Linked DNA regions of Homo sapiens. The protein of the gene in region 1 interacts with the protein of each later gene in a pairwise test. Each region holds a gene or a part of one and is shown in the gene's direction. Other genes may lie near its edges.

Region 1 (5,199 bases):
AGGCCAAGCCTAGGAGGCAGCAGTGTCCCCAACCTGCCCTATCTCTAGCAGAAGCTGCAGACCAGCCCCAGAAAGCTGGCTCTGCCCCAGCCTTGTGGACACCTCATGATACGGCCTCAATTCATTCTACCTGAGCAAATGACCGGGGAGTGAAATAGATTACATTGGCATTTGTTGTTTCTTGCTTAACAGAAACTGCTGCTCCCCCAGCCCTTGGAAGACTGATTTTTAATTCCAGAGTCTTCTCAGGAAGCCCTTTTTACTACTATAGTACTCACTTTTAAGCGTTCACCTCAGATGAACTTCTGACCATGTCTCTAGACCCCCAACAGGCTAAATCCCCAGTCTGTGTTTTCATAGCACTCGACCACCTTTTCATCCTTCTTGGGAAATTTTAAGTTGTTTTTTGTTTGTTTGTTTGTTTGTTTTTGAGATGGAGGTTTGCTCATTGCCCAGGCTGGAGTGCAATGGCACGATCTCGGCTCACTGCAACCTCTGCCTCCCAGGTTCAAGCGATTCTCCTGCCTCAGCCTCCCAAGTAGCTGGGATTGCTGGCATGCACCACCATGCCTGGCTAATTTTGTATTTTTAGTAGAGATGGGTTTCACCATGTTGGCCAGGCTGGTCTCGAACTCCCGACCTCAGGTGATCTGCCCGCATCAGCCTCCCAAAGTGCTGGGATTATAGGCATGAGCCTCCATGCCTGGCTGTTCGTTTGTTTTTTTGAGACAGAGTCTCGCTCTGTCACCCAGGCTAGAGTGCAGTGGCGTGATCTTGGCTCACTGCAACCTCTGTCTCCCAGGCTCAAGCAATTCTCCTACCTCAGCCTCCTGAGTAGCTGGGATTACAGAAGCGCACCACCACGCCCCGCTAATTTTTGTATTTTTAGTAGAGACAGGGTCTCACCATGTTGGCCAGGCTGGTCTTAAACCCCTGACCTCAAATGATCCGCCCGCCTCGGCCTCCCAAAGTGCTGGGATTACAGGTGTGAGCCACCGTGCCCAGCCCAAGAAATTTTAAATTAAATAACAATTAATCATATGATTAGTTACTTAATGCCTACCTCCCTAACACATGAGCTAAAGTGTGTGAGCTCCAGGAGGGACAGCATCCTGCCTTTCTTGTTCATATGTCCCCTTTCCCAGTCCAGGGCATGACAGAATATTTGTTGAGTCAATAATAACCCATTTCATTCTCAGATTCTTGGACAGTTCGTACTGCCATGGGGTTTTTCACAAGTGTTCCTCCGAACTCTTCTGTGATGGGAGGCCTCTGGAATTTTGGTCTTCCCCTAATCTTACCAATATTTAATGAGCCCAGTGTGGGGCTTTGACAGGAATACAAAGGTGACTAAGATTCTGCCTCAGTCTCTGAAGAGACCAACAAGTTGACATATTCTGCTGTGAAGTTTATTGCTGTTTTGCTTTTGACAGTGGTGAGACAGCATTCAAAGCCATGATGGAGTCCTTTGGCTGGGCCCGGCGCCCTATGCTGGAGCGAATTCACTTGATTCGAAAAGATGTGCCTATCACTATGATCTACGGGTCCGACACCTGGATAGATACCAGTACGGGAAAAAAGGTGAAGATGCAGCGGCCGGATTCCTATGTCCGAGACATGGTATGTTGCACCACCCAAGGAGTGGAAATGATGACTGAGAGTCAATCACCTCTCAGCCTTGGGGTAGAGAAGGGTGATCAAGGAGAAAGAGGAATGGACAGACTGAGATAGAGCAGTAGATTTGAGAAGTTTGGAAACTCTCTTTGGAATATCTTTTTTTTTTCGTGATGGAGTCTCGCTATTGTTGCCCAGGCTGGAGGGCAATGGTACAATCTCGGCTCACTGCAACCTCCGCCTCCCGGGTTCAAGCGATTCTTCTGCCTCAGCCTCCCGAGTAGCTGGGATTATTAGCATGCGCCACCACGCCCAGCTAATTTTGTATTTTTAGTAGAGACGAGGTTTCTCCATGTTGGTCAGGCTGGTCTCGAACTCCTGACCTCACGTGATCCGCCCACCTTGGCCTCCCAAAGTGCTCGTATTGTACTACCTTCATTAGGGGCTTCCTGCTTTTAGCCCAGTTCAGCTAAAAGGCTGGTTCTTGTCTAGCAGCCAGGCACCTGCTGCTACTCCAGCCCCCATGTAGTTTCTACCCCAAAACCAGAGCCATGGGCAGTAGAGTGAATAGTAGAGGCTGCCATGAAGCTTCCCCACCACACCTCCTCCCCTTTTTTCTTACCCCTCTCCGCCATGTGCCAATGAGTGTGCTTAATGAGGCTGGGTGCCAACCATGGGCCCAGGTTTACTGGACCTTTGGATTAAATGAGCAGATCAGTGGTGGGGCTAACACAGAAGGAAAGACACAGTGAATGTTTATCAAGTAAGTAGAATGGGAAAGCATTGGCTGTCAAAGGAAAATACCAAGATCCAAGCGAGAAAGGTGGAGCATTATCTCTGATAAGAGCTCGTGGGTGGCAGGCAAGCAAGTCTAAGGGGAAAAGAAATAGCGTGAAGGCTTCCCAGCACCAGGAATAAAAGGCCATCCCACCCCTGCGGGTTCTCTCTCCACAGGAGATTAAGGGTGCCTCCCACCATGTCTATGCTGACCAGCCACACATCTTCAATGCTGTGGTGGAGGAGATCTGCGACTCAGTTGATTGAGCTGCTCTCTGAAGAGGAAGAGGAGAAAGCCAGAGAGTCACTCTTACCTCCCTGTCTGCTTACTCACCCACTCTGTCCTTTCCTCACCAACTAACATGTGCCAGCCAGGCAGAGTCTTGTGCTGTTCCCAGAACAGGACGACAGTGAAAAGAACACTCTTGACCCTACACTGAAGGCTGAAGGCAGAAGCCACAAGAGGCCTTGAGTGCCACCCCCAGGGAAGAACATAAAGGGTTGCACAATGCCACCCATCCACTCCTTGCCAAGTGTTACCCAGATGGTGGAGGATGTGAAGGGATTGCACCAAGCCACATTCACTCTCTCTGTGGCCTTTCTTCCTCTGGGCAAAGAAGGGCTTCCAGTGGCCTTTCCTCACTCTGTAGTGTTTGTGGGGATAGGTTCCATGCAAGAACACCTTCCTCCTCCATCCCCCACTTCACCCCATCCCATACCAGTTCCATCCAGGGTCTGCTTAACTGCCAAGAGCAGGTCCTGGAGTTCCCTTCACCTGCAGAGTCCTTTTCATGACCTAGGAGGTCTTATTCAAAGCCCTCATTGACAGAGGAGGAAACAGGCCAAGGCAGGACATGGCTGGACCATGGTGATACAGCTCTGTGTGATTCAAGTTCTGGCAGAGCTTGTAAGGCTAGAGCCCAGGTCTGCCGACACCCTGTGCTTGTTGCACACTTGATTTGCTAAGGCTGGAGACAGGCACCATTGCCATGGGGCTGGTCCTAGTCACTGGCCGAGGATAAGCCCGTCCCTGTCCCACATTCTAGCCCCACTATGCGGGGGTGCTGTTGTCCTGCCTGTGTCTCATCCCCGGCTGCCTAAGCTAGGGACACTCAAGTGCTTCCTTCCTTGCCCCATCTTCCTCCCAACTGGAGGCCTCTGAGCCTCCCCTGTGCCTTGGGCCCTGAAGCCCCATATGTAGTATAGAGCAAAGGTGGCTCCTGGTGAAGAGAGGGTGGAAAGGCCCTTCAGCCCCAGGGCCATGTCTGGGTTCTCCATGCCCATCAGTCTCTGCAGTTTCTCTACCTGCCCCCAGAGCTGAGGCCATCTGCAAGCCCCTGCCCATGGCCCAATGGGGAGCCTCCAGCCACAAGTTCCCTGTCCTTATCAGCCACTGGGTGGTTCCCACTGCATGACCCTCTATCCCTGCCATCTGTCCCCATGGTTTCCAGCTCAATCCACCCCTGACCCATCTGTCAGCTTTTTCCCAGGGAGCCGTTTCAGGGGTTCTGGGCAGTAGGCTGGGCCTGGCCTCAGAACCTGGTGGCTCCTGCCTGCTCCTTCACTTTTGTAAAACCATCCCCTTCACCAGAATGGTATTAACTCCTGGTGCTTTGTACTACTGGTCCAGCTGCCCTGGGCTCCTTTTCTATATTAATAAAGAAACGAGTAAAAATTACCGGTGGGGATGATGTTTAAAATTGCTCTGATCACTGGTGGTGCTGAATTCGCAACAGCCTGTGTGATGCCTGAGAGAAGGGAGTCCTGAGGGTTGCCTGCCTACCCACGACTCCTTCTCCTTTTAGTGTGGCGTTTGCCCGCTAGACCCAGCCCAGAGTCCAGGTCAGCACAGGCCCTCTCAGCCAACCACTCATGACAAATGAGGAGTCGAGATCCACAGTGTGGATGGGGCAAGCCCCAGTTCACAGTAGAGAGGTGGAACTTAGTACTTCCTGCTGCCCATTAGACACCCTTTCTTCCTAAGTTCAAGGGAAGCCCACACATGTACTGCTCCCTGCATCCTGCTCTAACTTCCTCTCATCCTCTGGATCTCAGCTCAAATATTCCTTATGCAGAGATGCCTTCCCCTGATTCCCTAAACTAGACTCGGACCCCTCTGTTCTGCATCTCTGTGGCATATCATCTGCCCCTTTTGTAAAACTTATAAACTTGTGGTTACTTGTTTAGCGTCTCTTTCCTCCCCAGACCATAAGCAACATAAAGACAAAGGGTACATCTAGCACATAGTTCGTGTTCAATAAATGTTTGTTTTCATCATGCCACGGGAAGTGAGATATACCAAGTATTCAAAAAAGTGTTCAAATCATTACTAACAGTGCTTGCTCTGTGCTGGCTGAGTCCAGCTGGGCCCAGAATTCCACGGTTCTAAATGGCGCATATTCCATGTGCATAGGCTGATTGAAAATGTATTAAACCTAAATTTTAAAAAAAAAGCACATGATACTACACATGTCATGATGAATGAATAGACAGAACTCCTCCTGAATATAATTACAAAGTTCTGATCCATCTCAGGACCCTGTGTCTTCTCTGAGGATTTTTATAGGGAGGAGAAGGCAGGTATATAGAGCTTACTACATGCCAACCACTAGGGCTGCAATAGTGAAGAAACAGAGAGTGTCTGCCTTTGTGAGAAATTCCAGTTCACTCAAAGAGATGCACCTAGTCAAAATATTATGTAAATCAATGTAAAATTGCTAAAGTGCTACCCGTGAGAATTGAGAAAACCTCCTGCAGAAGTGATGGCAGCTGTGCCTGAAGGCAGGACCAGGGAAAGGGGAAGGACTG
Region 2 (5,862 bases), on another chromosome or scaffold:
TTTTTTTTTTAATTTTTAGTAGAGACAGGATCTCACTGTGTTGCCCAGGCTGGTCTTGAGCTCCTGGTGTCAAGCAATACTCCCACTTCAGCCTTCCAAAGCACTGGGATTACAGGCATGAGCCACCACACCCGACCCCAGATCAATTATTTATTTATTTATTTATTTATTTATTTTTTGAGATGGAGTCTCGCTCTGTCACCCAGGCTGGAGTGCAGTGGTGTAATCTCAGCTCACTACCAGCTCTGCCTCCCAGGTTCACGCCATTCTCCTGCCTCAGCCTCCCGAGTATCTGGGACTACAGGCGCCCGCCACCAGGCCCAGCTAATTTTTTTTGTATTTTTAGTAGAGACGCGATTTCACCGTGTTACCCGGGATGGTCTTGATCTGCTGACCTTGTGATCCGCCCGCCTCGGCCTCCCAAAGTGCTGGGATTACAGGCGTGAGCCACCGCACCCTGCCTATTTATTTATTTATTGCTCTGTTGCCCAGGCTGGAGTGCAGTGGCACAATCTCAGCTCACTGCAACCTCTGCCTCCTGGGTTCAAGTGGTTCTCCTGTCTCCACCTCCCCAGTAGATGGGATTACAGGCATGCGTCACCACGCCCGGCTAATTTTTGTACTTTTTAGTAGACACGGGGTTTCGCCATGTTGGCCAGGCTGGTCTCAAACTCCTGACCGCAGGTGATCCGCCCACATCGGCCTCCCAAAGTGCTGGTATTACAGGCGTGAGCCACCGTGCCCGGACCCAGATCGATTTTTTAAAAACTGAAATGAGATCATATCAAAAGCACATAGTAAGGGCTACAAAAGTGACATGCATAAAGATATGGTGAATATCTCTATAAATGCAAATTGTTCGGGAGGCAGAACTAGACCACCTGCTGCCTAAAACTGTCTCCTGTTTCCCCGACTGCTAAGCACAGCAGCCAGAATGACTTTTCAAATGAAAAAACCAGATCTTATCTCTCTCACGTGGGCACTCTCCCGTAATCCCTCGCTCAAGTCCAGAGTCCTCCAGCTGCCAGGGCTCTGGGCAAAACCCTACCTCCCAGTGTGTGCCTTTTTTTTTTTTTTTTTTTTTTTTGAGATAGAGTCTCACTCTGTCACCCTGGCTGGAGTGCAATGTCATGATCTCGGCTCACTGCAACCTCTGCCTCCCGGGTTCAAGCGATTCTCCTGCCTCAGCCTCCCGAGTAGCTGAGACTACAGGCACCTGCCACCACGCCCAGCTAATTTGATTTATTTATTTATTTTTGAGACAGAGTCTCACTCCGTCACCCAAGCTGGAGTGCAGTGGCGTGATCTTGACTCACTGCAGCCTCCACCTCCTGGGTTCAAGCAATTTTCCTGCCTCAGTCTCCCAAGTAGCTGGGATTACAGGCGCCTGCAACCACACCCAGCTAATTTTTTTGTATTTTTAGTAGAGACAGGGTTCTGTCATGTTTGCCAGGCTGGTCTAGAACTCCTAACCTCAAGTTATCCACCCGTCTTGGCCCCCCAAAGTGCTGGGATTACAGGCCTGACCCACTGCGCCCGGCCTAATTTTTGTATTTTTAGTAGAGATGGGGTCTCACCATGTTGGCCAGGCTGGTCTCGAACCCTGTCTGTGCTCATCTCACTCTCTGGCCAAGGAAATTTTCAAGGACCTGATTTCAACTATGTTCTCCCCGGATGGTTTACAACTTCTGCCTAGAAAGTTCTTCCAGGCTGTCCCAGCCTGGCTTCCACTTTTTGTTTTTTAACAGCTTTTTTTTTTCTTTTTTTTTTTTTTTTTTTTTTGAGATGGAGTCTCGCTCTGTCGCCCAGGCTGGAGTGCAGTGACGCGATTTCGGCTCACTGCAAGCTCCGCCTCCCGGATTCACGCCATTCTCCTGCCTCAGCCTCCTAAGTAACTAGGACTACAGGCTCCCGCCACCATGCCCAGCTAATTTTTTTGTGTTTTTTTAGTAGAGATGGGGTTTCACCATGTTAGCCAGGATGGTCCCGATCGTCCTGACCTCATGATCCACCCTCCTCGGCCTCCCAAAGTGCTGGGGATTACAGGGGTGAGCCACCGCACCCAGCCTTTTTTTTTTTTTTAACAGTTTTATTGAGATCTCATTTGCATACCATACAAGTCACGCATTTAAAGCATACACATCGCTGGTTCTCAGCATTGTGCAACTATCCCTATCTCATCTCATGCCCCTAAAAAGAAACCCTTTTCCCATCAGCAGTCACTGCCCCATTTCCTCCTCCTCCCAACCACGTATCCCCTCCTGTCTCTGGATGGGCCTGTCCTGGACATTTCATAGAAATGGGATCACACCCTGTTTGGCCTTTTGTGTCCGGCTTCTCGCGCTGAGCGTGACGTCCTTAGGGCTCACCCATGCTGTGGCCTGGGTCAGAGCCCCATGACGTTCCATGGCTGAGTCACATTCTGTTGTATGGGTGGATCACATTCTGTTCACCCATTTATCAACCGAAGGACACTTGAGTCGTTTCTACTTTTTGCTGTGCCCCTGTGTGCATGTCTTTGTGTGTGGACGTATGTTTCCGTTTCTCTTGTGCACACACCCACAACTAGAATTGCCGAGTCATATGATGATTCTATGGTTTAACATTTTGAGTAACCGCTAGACTGTTTTCCAAAGTAACTATACCACCAGCAATACACGAGGCTTCCAATTTCTCCGCCTCTTGACTGACAGTGGGTATCATCTGATAGCCTCTGGGGTTTTTGTTTGTTTGTTTGTTTTTGAGACAGAGTCTCGCTCTGTTGCCCAGGCTGGAGTGCAATGGCATGATCTTGGCTCACTGCAACCTCCGCCTCCTGGGTGCAAGCAGTTCTTCTGCCTCAGCTTCCTGTGTAGCTGGGATTATAGGCACATGCCACCACACCCGGCTAATTTTGTATCTTTAGTAGAAATGCGGGTTTCGCCATGTTGGTCAGGCTGAACTCCTGACCTCGGTGATCCACGCACCTTGGCCTCCCAAAGTGCTGGGATTACAGGCATGAGCCACCATGCCAGGCCTCCTTATGGTTTTGATTTGCATTTCCTCAATGACTTATAAGGTCAAACAGCTTTTCATGTGCTCTCCCTATATCTTCTTTGGTGATTTGTCTATGCCCTTTAAAGAATTTGACTAGTGGCCAAATGCAGTGGCTCGTGCCTGTAATTCCAGCATTTTGGGAGGCTGAAGTGGGCAGGTCACTTGGGCCCAGGAGTTTAAGACCTGGGCAACTTAGTGAGATCCTGGCTCTACAGAAAATTTTAAAAATGTAGCTGGGCGTGGTAGTGAGTGCCTGTAGTCAGGCAGGCTGAAATGAGAGGATAACTTGAGCTCAGGAGTTACAGGCTGTAGTAAGCTATGATCACGCCACTGCACTCCAGCCTGGGCGACAAAGTGAGATCCTGTTTCTAATTAAAAGAAAAGAGTCTGGGCGCGGTGGTTCATGCCTGTAATCTCAGTACTTTGGGAGGCCAAGGAGGGCCGATCACTTGAGGTAGAGTTCAAGACCAGCCTGGCCAACATGGTGAAACCCCATCTGTACTAAAAATGCAAAAGTTAGACGGGCGTGGTGGCACGCGCCTGTAGTCCTAGCTATTCGGGAGGCTGAGGTAGGAGAATCGCTTGAACCTGGGAGGCGGAGGTTGCAGTGAGCCAAAATCATGCCACTGCACGCCAACCTGGGCAACAGAGCAAGACTCTATCTCAAAAAAAAAAAAAAAAAAAAGGGCCGGGCACGGTGGCTCACGCTTGTAATCCCAGCATTTTGGGAGGCCAAGGCAGGCGGATCACGAGGTCAGGAGATCAAGACCATCCTGGCTAACACGGTGAAACCCCGTCTCTACTAAAAATACAAAAAATTAGCCTGGCGTGGTGGTGGGCGCCTGTAGTCCCAGCTACTCGGGAGGCTGAGGCAGGAGAATGGCGCGAACCTGAGAGGCGGAGCTTGCAGTGAGTTGAGATTGTGCCACTGCACTCCAGCCTGGGCGACAGGGCGAGACTCCGTCTCAAAAAAAAAAAAAAAAGTTTCGCCTATGGAAAGCGTTTGCCCCAAGGTCAGTGGTAGAACCCCTCTTCCCCTCTTTCCCTGGCTTCAGCTCCGATCGCCTTTCCTGAAACAAATGGTCCTGATTGGTGTCCCCATCTCCCTTCTCAGCAGGTCGAGTCCCGGGCGCTCACCATGTTCCGGGACATTGCCCAGCAACTGCAGGCCACCTGTACCTCCCTGGGGTCCAGCATTCAGGGCCTCCCCACCAATGTGAAGGACCAGGTGCAGCAGGCCCGCCGCCAGGTGGAGGACCTCCAGGCCACGTTTTCCAGCATCCACTCCTTCCAGGACCTGTCCAGCAGCATTCTGGCCCAGAGCCGTGAGCGTGTCGCCAGCGCCCGCGAGGCCCTGGACCACATGGTGGAATATGTGGCCCAGAACACACCTGTCACGTGGCTCGTGGGACCCTTTGCCCCTGGAATCACTGAGAAAGCCCCGGAGGAGAAGAAGTAGGGGGAGAGGAGAGGACTCAGCGGGCCCCGTCTCTATAATGCAGCTGTGCTCTGGAGTCCTCAACCCGGGGCTCATTTCAAACTTATTTTCTAGCCACTCCTCCCAGCTCTTCTGTGCTGTCCACTTGGGAAGCTAAGGCTCTCAAAACGGGCATCACCCAGTTGACCCATCTCTCAGCCTCTCTGAGCTTGGAAGAAGCCTGTTCTGAGCCTCACCCTATCAGTCAGTAGAGAGAGATGTCCAGAAAAAATATCTTTCAGGAAAGTTCTCCCCTGCAGAATTTTTTTTCCTTGTTAAATATCAGGAATATAGGCCGGGTGCGGTGGCTCACACCTGTAATCCCAGCACTTTGGGAGGCTGAGGCGGGCGGAACACCTGAGGTCAGGTGTTCGAGACCAGCCAGGCCAACATGGTGAAACCCCGTCTCTACTAAAAATACAAAAAAAAATGAGCCGGGCATGGTAGCAGGTGTCTGTTATCCCAGTTAGGAGGCTGAGGCAAGAGAATCTCTTGAACCTGAGAGGCGGAGGTTGCAGTGAGCCAAGATCGCGCCATTGCACTCCAGCCTGGGGGACAAGAGTGAGACTTAGTCTCAAAAAAAAAAAAAAAGAAAAAAAAATCAGGGATATAGTTCATATCCCACTTCTTTGTTTACACCGATGTCCCTGAATATCAGCCTGTAGCTAATGGACTTGGGATTTCTGGTCTAAGTGGGCCTCCTGGGGATGGGGTGGTACACTGAGCTTCTGAGCCTCATTGTAGAGTAGAAAGGTACTGGGGCCTGTGTGGTAAGCCTTGTTGAAATGCTCTGGTATTCAGTATTGCCTTAATAAACTTCACCCACAACTGCATACAGGCCATGTGTGTACGTGTGTGTGTCTTCATCTGTCCCTGCTGCTAGAACAGAAATATCTTAGGCAGGGTAATTTATTTATTCATTTATTTATTTTGTAGAGACGGGGTCTTGCTATGTTGCCCAGGCTGATCTTGAACTCCTGAGCTCAAGCGTTCCTCTCACCACGTCCTCCCAAAGTGCCTGGCCAGGCTGGGTAATTTATGAGCAACAGAAATTGATTTCTCACAGTTCCGGAGGCGGGGAAGTCCAAGATCAAGACACTGGCAGGCCTGGCACAGTGGCTCACGCCTGTAATCCCAGCACTTTGGGAGGCCGAGGTGGGAGGATCACTTGAGGCCAGGAGTTTGAGACTGGCCTGGGCAACATAGCAAGACCCCATCTCTACACAAATTTTTTTTTTTTAAGTTAGCCAGGCATGGTAAGGTGGGAGGGTCACTTGAGCCCAGGAGTTTGAGACTGCAGTGAGCCAAGATCGCACTACTGCACTCCAGCCTGGGCAACAGAGCAAGAT
Region 3 (7,035 bases), on another chromosome or scaffold:
GACTGAAGGAAAGATTATCACCCCCATTTTACAGCTGAAAAAAAAAAGCTGTAGTGTATGATGAATAATTTGCCCGTAACTACATGCCTAGTGAGTGTAGCAAGCCCAAGATTTGCAGCTAGGTCTTCTTTAAGATGCCAAACGCCATCTCTTGCCCTCACATCATACCTCAGTGGTCTCCTTCCTGGTTAGCTACACACAGGTCTTTTATTTTTCCAGAGAGAGATTATAATCGAACCTGACTTCAGAAATCTGGATCACCCCTAGTCCAGTTATATAGACTGTGGACATATGTGTGTGTTGTTGATTTTCAACTGAGGTTCATTGCTTTTTGGTTGGAGAAAAGGAATTTGTAAAATTTGATGTTAAGTGGACAGGCCTGTCAGTAATGTTCTGTAACTTAGTCTTTAAATCTAGAGGGGGTTTTTGGTCTGTTGTTTAAATAACATGAAACTACATACAACTGTGTCCTTGCCTAGAATCAAGAAGTGGTGGACTTTGAAAAGTTGGATGACTACGCCTCTGCCTTTCAAGGTCATGATGTTGGATTCTGTTGCCTGGGTACCACCAGAGGGAAAGCTGGGGCGGTAAGGAAGGCATATGCTCTTTTCCCTTTTTGCTGGCCAGTAATATCAAGGATTCTTTTCTTGCTCACTCTTTTTCTTTGTGCCTGTTGCAATGCTTAAATGTGAATAAGCCTTTATTGTTTAAGATTCTATATGCTGCACTAACCTTTGGTATCCTTTTAATAGTACTGATAAGTTCGTCTTTCAAAGTAATCCTTGAGTTCAGGCCCCAGTGCTGGAGACGTCGTAAATATTTACATGATTTTGCCTATTGTGATTATCGCTATCACTACATCCCCTGACTAAGGGAAACCATGATGTCTGAGTAAAACTAATTGGTTTATGCTGTTAACAATCAGCTGTTTTTCCCCTTAATAAATGTTTGAAATTTGAAATGTTCTGTCTCACTTGAGTGATTTGCTTCAACTTATTTTCATGTCAAGCTTTAAACTTCTGGAATAGAACATCAGAACACAGGCACGATTCAACCAGCCTCCAGCGATGACTCAGCCTTCAGCGATGATTCAACCCCACTAATGATTCAGTCTTTACTGACGCAAAAGTCTTTTAACGCACATTTTATTTTCTTTTTAATGGTGTTCTAAATTGAGTCAGCTCCTGTACAGAAGTCATAGTTTACTACATAGTTAGAAATCAGAGTTTACTACCTGGATTCTGGGCAAATGTTAGTGCGGGTACATCTTATTTAATTTATACTTTGACTATAGTTTATTCCTCTGGCAGAATTTACATGCTGGAGCTGAAAAAACCTGCATGTTCTGCATATGTATCCCAGAACTTAAAGTAAAATTTAAAAATATTTAATAATAAATACATAAATAAAACAGAAGAAAGTGAAAAAAGTAAATAAATAAATAAAGCCGAGGCACAGTGGTTCATGCCTGTAATCCCAGGAAAACAAGAAAAAAGAAAAAATATATATATATATGACTATGACTCTGCCATGGGAATTCTCCTTAGGTTTATAAGCCAGACCCCTTCACCTGAAACATTAAGGGAGCATATAGTGAAGAACTATTCATTTATACCAACCGAGTAGTTAGATTCAGATGTATTTCTTTGGGCCTCCTTGTGATGCAAAGAGTAATTCTATGTATGCTTTCAATCAAGATGTATTTCCATACCTTCTGCAGTTCTGCCTATCTGTCCTGGAACACAGCTGGGATTGGAGCTCTGTGATGGGAACTATGGATTATAGAGAAGTTTGACTTTCCCAGGAATTGGCACATTATCTCTCCTAGAAAGGGTCATGTTCCTGCTTAACAGTGGGTGCAGTCTTTTCTGTCCCAGGCACAGTCACAAGTGGTGTGCCCTCCAAAAGCATTGAAAAACTTTTGTTCCAGGACACTGCAGGTTTGTCTCAAGTGCCAACCTGGTTTTGGTGGTGAGTCAGCAAAACAAAATGCTGCATTAGGCATAGAAGGGTTGATTTTCATGACATAAGGCAAATCTCATTATAGGGTGTGCCAGGGAAAAGTCTAAACTGCTTTTTGTGTTCAAAATGGGTAATGCAATTTTAATCAGAGGAATTGTGTGTCTTTACTATCCAGAATTTTCTTTTTTAATGGGGTTGGTTCTTCACGTCTCAGGCTATTCAATACCTTTTGTTCTCCTTTAAAATCAATTTGGAAAGATAAAAGTAATTAACTAGTAAGCAAGAATAGACTAATGAGCCTAGACTATTCACCTAGCTTAGAAATGAATTAGGACTTAAATGATTTAAGAGGTTAGTGGTGGAAAGCAAGCTGACACTTATACCAGAAAAGTGTTTTGTTTGTTTTGGGGGCTTTAAAAAAAAAACTAATTTGGGCTGTGTACAATATAAAGTTGGGAGGTTGATAACTTTAGCCAATATGAAAGAGGTGACAGTTCATATGTGGCTAAGTAACGATAGTGTTTTAAGTGGAGGTTGTGGATTTCCAAGCTTATCCCAGCTGGTGTTCTGGGTCAGCAGCCCTCTCTGTAGAAAAAAGTTCGTTGGGTGGTTTATCATATGAGTACTACAAAGCTAGTGGCAAAACTAGTACGCTTCACTAGGGATTTTGTAACTGGAACACCTCATATATTGCCTTAGCAGTCTGTGTTTCCAGCAGAGAAACTTCAAGAAATTCAGCGTTTTTGTCTCAGTATTGAGATCCTCTGTGTAGGTGGCTTATTTCCATGTGATGTTCAGTGTATTAGTTTGCTAGGGCTGCCATAACCCAAGTAGCTTGAACAACAGAAACGTATTGTCTCACAGTTCTGGAGGCTAGAAGTCTGAGATCCAGGTCTCAGCAGGCTGGTCAGTGCTCTGAGGCTGAGCCCTTGAGTTTCCAGGCCCTCTCCTTGTCTTGTAGATGGCAGCCTTCTCTTTGTGTCTCTTTACGTGGTATTTTCCCTGAATACCTGTGCCTATATCCACATTTCCCCTTTTTATAAGACCACTAGTCATACTGGATTAGGGACCACCCTATTTAGTATGATCTCAACTAATTACATCTGCAATGAACTTATTTCCAAATAAGGTCATATTCTGAGGTAATGGGGGTTAGGAGTTCAACATACGCATTTTGGGGGGATGTAATCCAACCCACAAAATTCAGTCTACTCAGGTTTCTATTGACACTGGTTCTAGGAAAAGGTCTATTAGCTTTCCTCAGCTGTTTGGAAGACTATTTCCTTTAACAGTAGCTGGGCAGATGCTAATCTTCCTTTTCATATTCACAGAACACAGTTGTTCAGTCAATGCACTGGCTCCCTGACTTGGCCCTGATCCAGATCTACTGCATCAGCATCTCTGAATTTGGAAGCTTGGAATCTGTATTTTTAGCAGGCTCCTTGGGAGATCCTGATGCAGTCAACCCTGTCCTTCTTGTTGAACCTACTTTCAAGAGGCATTGGGGTGTATTAATTCCCCTCACTTGCTGGTTTTCTGGGTACTGTGGTCCTGGATAACCTTTGCCTTGCTTTAGTGAGTAACTTGTTTGCTAGTGAAGATTGAAATAGCCTTTGAAAACCAGATCTGTATTGTCCTGGAGTGAAGCACAAAAACTTAGAGATGCCAGTGAGAATAGTTCATTTCCCCTTATTTGTATCAAAAGAGGGATTTGATTAGTGAATTCAAGGTGGTTCGATGTGGTTTCACCTTTTCATTTGTTTCCTCACCTGGTCGTAGTAGGCTCCAGAAGTCCAGGTTCTTGTTTTCTGTTGAGTGGATGATGTCATTAATGTGATTAGTGTGGCCACTGTGACATTTATTAGGCATCTCATGGCCCATCTCATTAGAACCTTATGGCTTCTGATTCTAATGATCTGCTCTTCTAATTCAAAGGTTTGCAATACAGCCTGCCACCTGTTTTTGTACACCCTGTGAGCTAAGAATGTCTTTATGTATATATTTTTTTTTTGAGACGGAGTCTCGCTCAGTTGCCCAGGCTAGAGTGCAGTGGCGCAATCTCGGCTCACTGCAAGCTCCGCCTCCTGGGTTCACGCCATTCTCCTGCCTCAGCCTCCCAAGTAGCTGGGACTACAGGTGCCCACCACCATGCCCAGCTAATTTTTTGTATTTTTAGTAGAGATGGGGTTTTACCGTGTTAGCCAGGATGGTCTCGATCTCCTGACCTCGTGATCTGCCCGTCTTGGCCTCCCAAAGTGCTGGGATTACAGGCGTGAGCCACCGCACCCGGCCTATATTTTTAACTGGTTAAAAAATTCAAAAGAATAATGTCATACCATGTGAAAATATAAAAACTTCAAATTTTAGTCTTTATACATAAAGTGGTATTGGGACACAGCCATGCTTATTACTTTATGTATTATCTGTGGCTGCTTTTGTGCTATTAACATAATGGTAGAGCTATATAGTTGCAACAGAGGCCTGCAAAGCTAAAAATAGTTACTGTCTGATCCTTTACAGGAAAAGTTTGCCCACCCTTGTTCTAATCTCTGTTGTTTATTTGATGTCTAGGAGGGGGCTTGTGAAGTGGCGAGGTCCTAGCTGGTTCAAGGGACCCAGATCACAGGCCCTGTTTGGTTGCCAAGTAGCTATGGAGCCTGGAGTTTGCTGGTTAGCTTTTGGAGGCCACTACCTCCTTGTCTGTCAGAAGGAGGTGACCAGTGAACCCACCTTCCTACTGCAAAATTCTTAAACATTTTTCTGTTTTTTTGAGACAGAGTCTCATTCCATCGCCCAGGCTGGAGTGCAGTTGTGTGATTTCGGCTCACTGCAGGAGTGCGATTTCGGTCACTGCAGCCTCCACCTACCCAGCTCAAGCAATCCTCCCACCTCAGCCTCCCAAGTAGCTGGGACCACAGGCATGCGCCACCATGGCTGGCTAATTTTTGTATTTTTTTTTGTAGAGACAGGGTTTTGCCATGCTTCCCACCCAGGCTGGTCTTGAACTCCTGGGTTCAAGTGATCTGCTTGCCTCGGCCTCCCAAAGTGCTGGGATTACCATGAGCCATCGCACCCGGCCTGAAAAATTCTTTGACTCTATGAAACACAGAAGAAAGAATATCCAATTGGAAAACTTTTTCAAGAACATATAGATTGACCCAGGAATCCTCAGTATCTGCTTGATTTTATTTATCTATCCAGAACTTCTCTAACCAAGATCTTTCCCCTACCATTGAACATCAAATATGGAGATGCCCTCCAGGACACAAACAAAAGGTGCCTCAGATTATACCATTTGGTGTTTGTCAGCATCTTTGTTTTCTAGTCTAATTTATAGGGTTGGATTGAAAGGGAGTGAAGGAGAAAGAACCTGAAGCAGAAATAGGGCTGAATGGGACCTTTACAGAATGATAGACCCACCCTTCTTGGAAAAAGATCCCCATGATTTACTTTTTTATAAATTAATTAATTTTTTAGAGACAGGGTCTCACTGTGTTGCCAAGGCTAGACTCAAATTCCTGGGATCAAGCGATCTTCCTGCTTCAGCCTCCTGAGTAGCTGGGACCACAGACCACCGTGCCTGACCCCATGACCTTCTTGAGTCGTTTAGACGTGCTAACTTGTCCTATCAGTCAGCACTGAAATACTATACCTTGTTAGGATGAGTTGTTCTGAAGCCAGAATGTTGTTTTTAGTTTTCAGGCACTGGTAAAGAAGATTAGAAGAAATACTTAGTAGCTTTGGATTTTAGTAAGACTTAAGAGTCGTTGGAGAATTTGCTGCCTTTGATGTTGTGGAGCCTATGAGGATATCTCTACTGAGTGTAGTATACTGTGTTTATTCTTTTTGAGAGGGTGCTGGGAAAGGACTTTATAGTGGGAACTTATTTAATTAATTCCTTTTTCTAGAAGGGACTCAGATTCCTAGCTTAGAGCAGGACACATTGGCTATGGAATCATAAAGACAGAATGACATGTGGACTTAATACTCTCAGAAGAGATGTCTGTCCACATGGTTAGGGAAACTAAGTACAGTTTTTCTAAAAATTGTGTTTCTGAGATATGAAATAGCTTGCTTTAGTTAGTTTTTCTGTTGTTTTTTTAATCGAGCTATTGGAGAACAATAAAGGGCATGAATAAGATTTTCGAGATCGCTCCTTTCATCTGTAAATAGAATCTTCCTCACTCCAGAGAAAATTGGTGTGTGATACCTCCTAGTCAGTCATCAGGACCCATGCTTCAGTTTGATTTTTAAGTCTTTGAAAGCTGTTGACCCTTTTGCTTTTGAGTTTCATTCACCAGCTAAAAGGCCACGCCATCAGGGTGACGGAAGTGAAATTCAAAATTTAGTGGGCTTGGAAAAACGCGTATTTATAATGAGCTTGAAGGCTCAGAGGATTTGTGAAATCGTTTTGGATTAACAGCCATTGATTGCTAATAAAACAATATTTAGCTTTGTCCAGAGAACAGCAATGGAGAAAGGTATGGGCACCTTGTCAACAGGCCCCATTGAGCAGGGATGATGGGCTAAGTGTGGGGGTCTCTGCAGCAGCGTGGGTGCTCGTCCTTCAAGGAGCGGTTGTCAGTCGTTAGCGAGGCGGGTGAAAGGAAGGACGCCAAAGTCTGATGGCCGGGGTGGTATTGATGTGCCTTCGCTGACTAATCAGATTGAAAAAGTCCCATGGTATTTATGTCACTTTAATTTTCATCAAACAATTGGAGACGACAGCACTCTATTAAGGAGAGGTTGATCCAGAACTAAAGCCAAATAAATTAGGGTCTCAGTTTAATCAAATTATCCTTTTACTGGCTCTGGATTAAGTGAGAGAGACAGCGTCGGTCAGGAGACTTGTGATTGGCTGAATCTTTCCCTTATTTTTAAAGAAACGGATGAAAGAAAAAGTATTTTAACAGACTACTATAATAATCCTTCCAATCAATCTTGCTAAAACAACAACAACAAAAAAACTGAATTTATTTCACTAGTCAACTGTGTCATTTTGTTGTGAATAACTAACCTGTCATTAAAATCAGAGTTCTGATAAACTGGCATGAGGGGAAGAAACAGATGTGG

The links. Proteins that work in one complex are often made in the same cells at the same time.
Region 2: the proteins of ABHD4 (region 1) and PLIN3 interact in binary tests that used the Homo sapiens proteins (3 or more experiments, as listed by UniProt).
Region 3: the proteins of ABHD4 (region 1) and HTATIP2 interact in binary tests that used the Homo sapiens proteins (3 or more experiments, as listed by UniProt).

The regions. Positions count from the first base shown.
Region 1 is NC_000014.9:22,608,291-22,613,489, forward strand, and holds the end of ABHD4 ((Lyso)-N-acylphosphatidylethanolamine lipase), read left to right. Parts: intron 1-1,433; coding exon 1,434-1,620; intron 1,621-2,568; coding exon 2,569-2,658; 3' UTR 2,659-4,673; downstream 4,674-5,199. UniProt on the Homo sapiens protein: Lysophospholipase selective for N-acyl phosphatidylethanolamine (NAPE).
Region 2 is NC_000019.10:4,837,825-4,843,686, reverse strand, and holds the end of PLIN3 (perilipin-3), read left to right. Parts: intron 1-4,150; coding exon 4,151-4,495; 3' UTR 4,496-5,346; downstream 5,347-5,862. UniProt on the Homo sapiens protein: Structural component of lipid droplets, which is required for the formation and maintenance of lipid storage droplets. Required for the transport of mannose 6-phosphate receptors (MPR) from endosomes to the trans-Golgi network.
Region 3 is NC_000011.10:20,366,695-20,373,729, forward strand, and holds part of HTATIP2 (protein HTATIP2), read left to right. Parts: intron 1-479; coding exon 480-587; coding exon of another isoform or gene 588-686; exon of another isoform or gene 687-961; intron 962-7,035. UniProt on the Homo sapiens protein: Represses translation by preventing reactivation of elongation factor eEF1A. May also inhibit nuclear import by competing with nuclear import substrates for binding to a subset of nuclear transport receptors.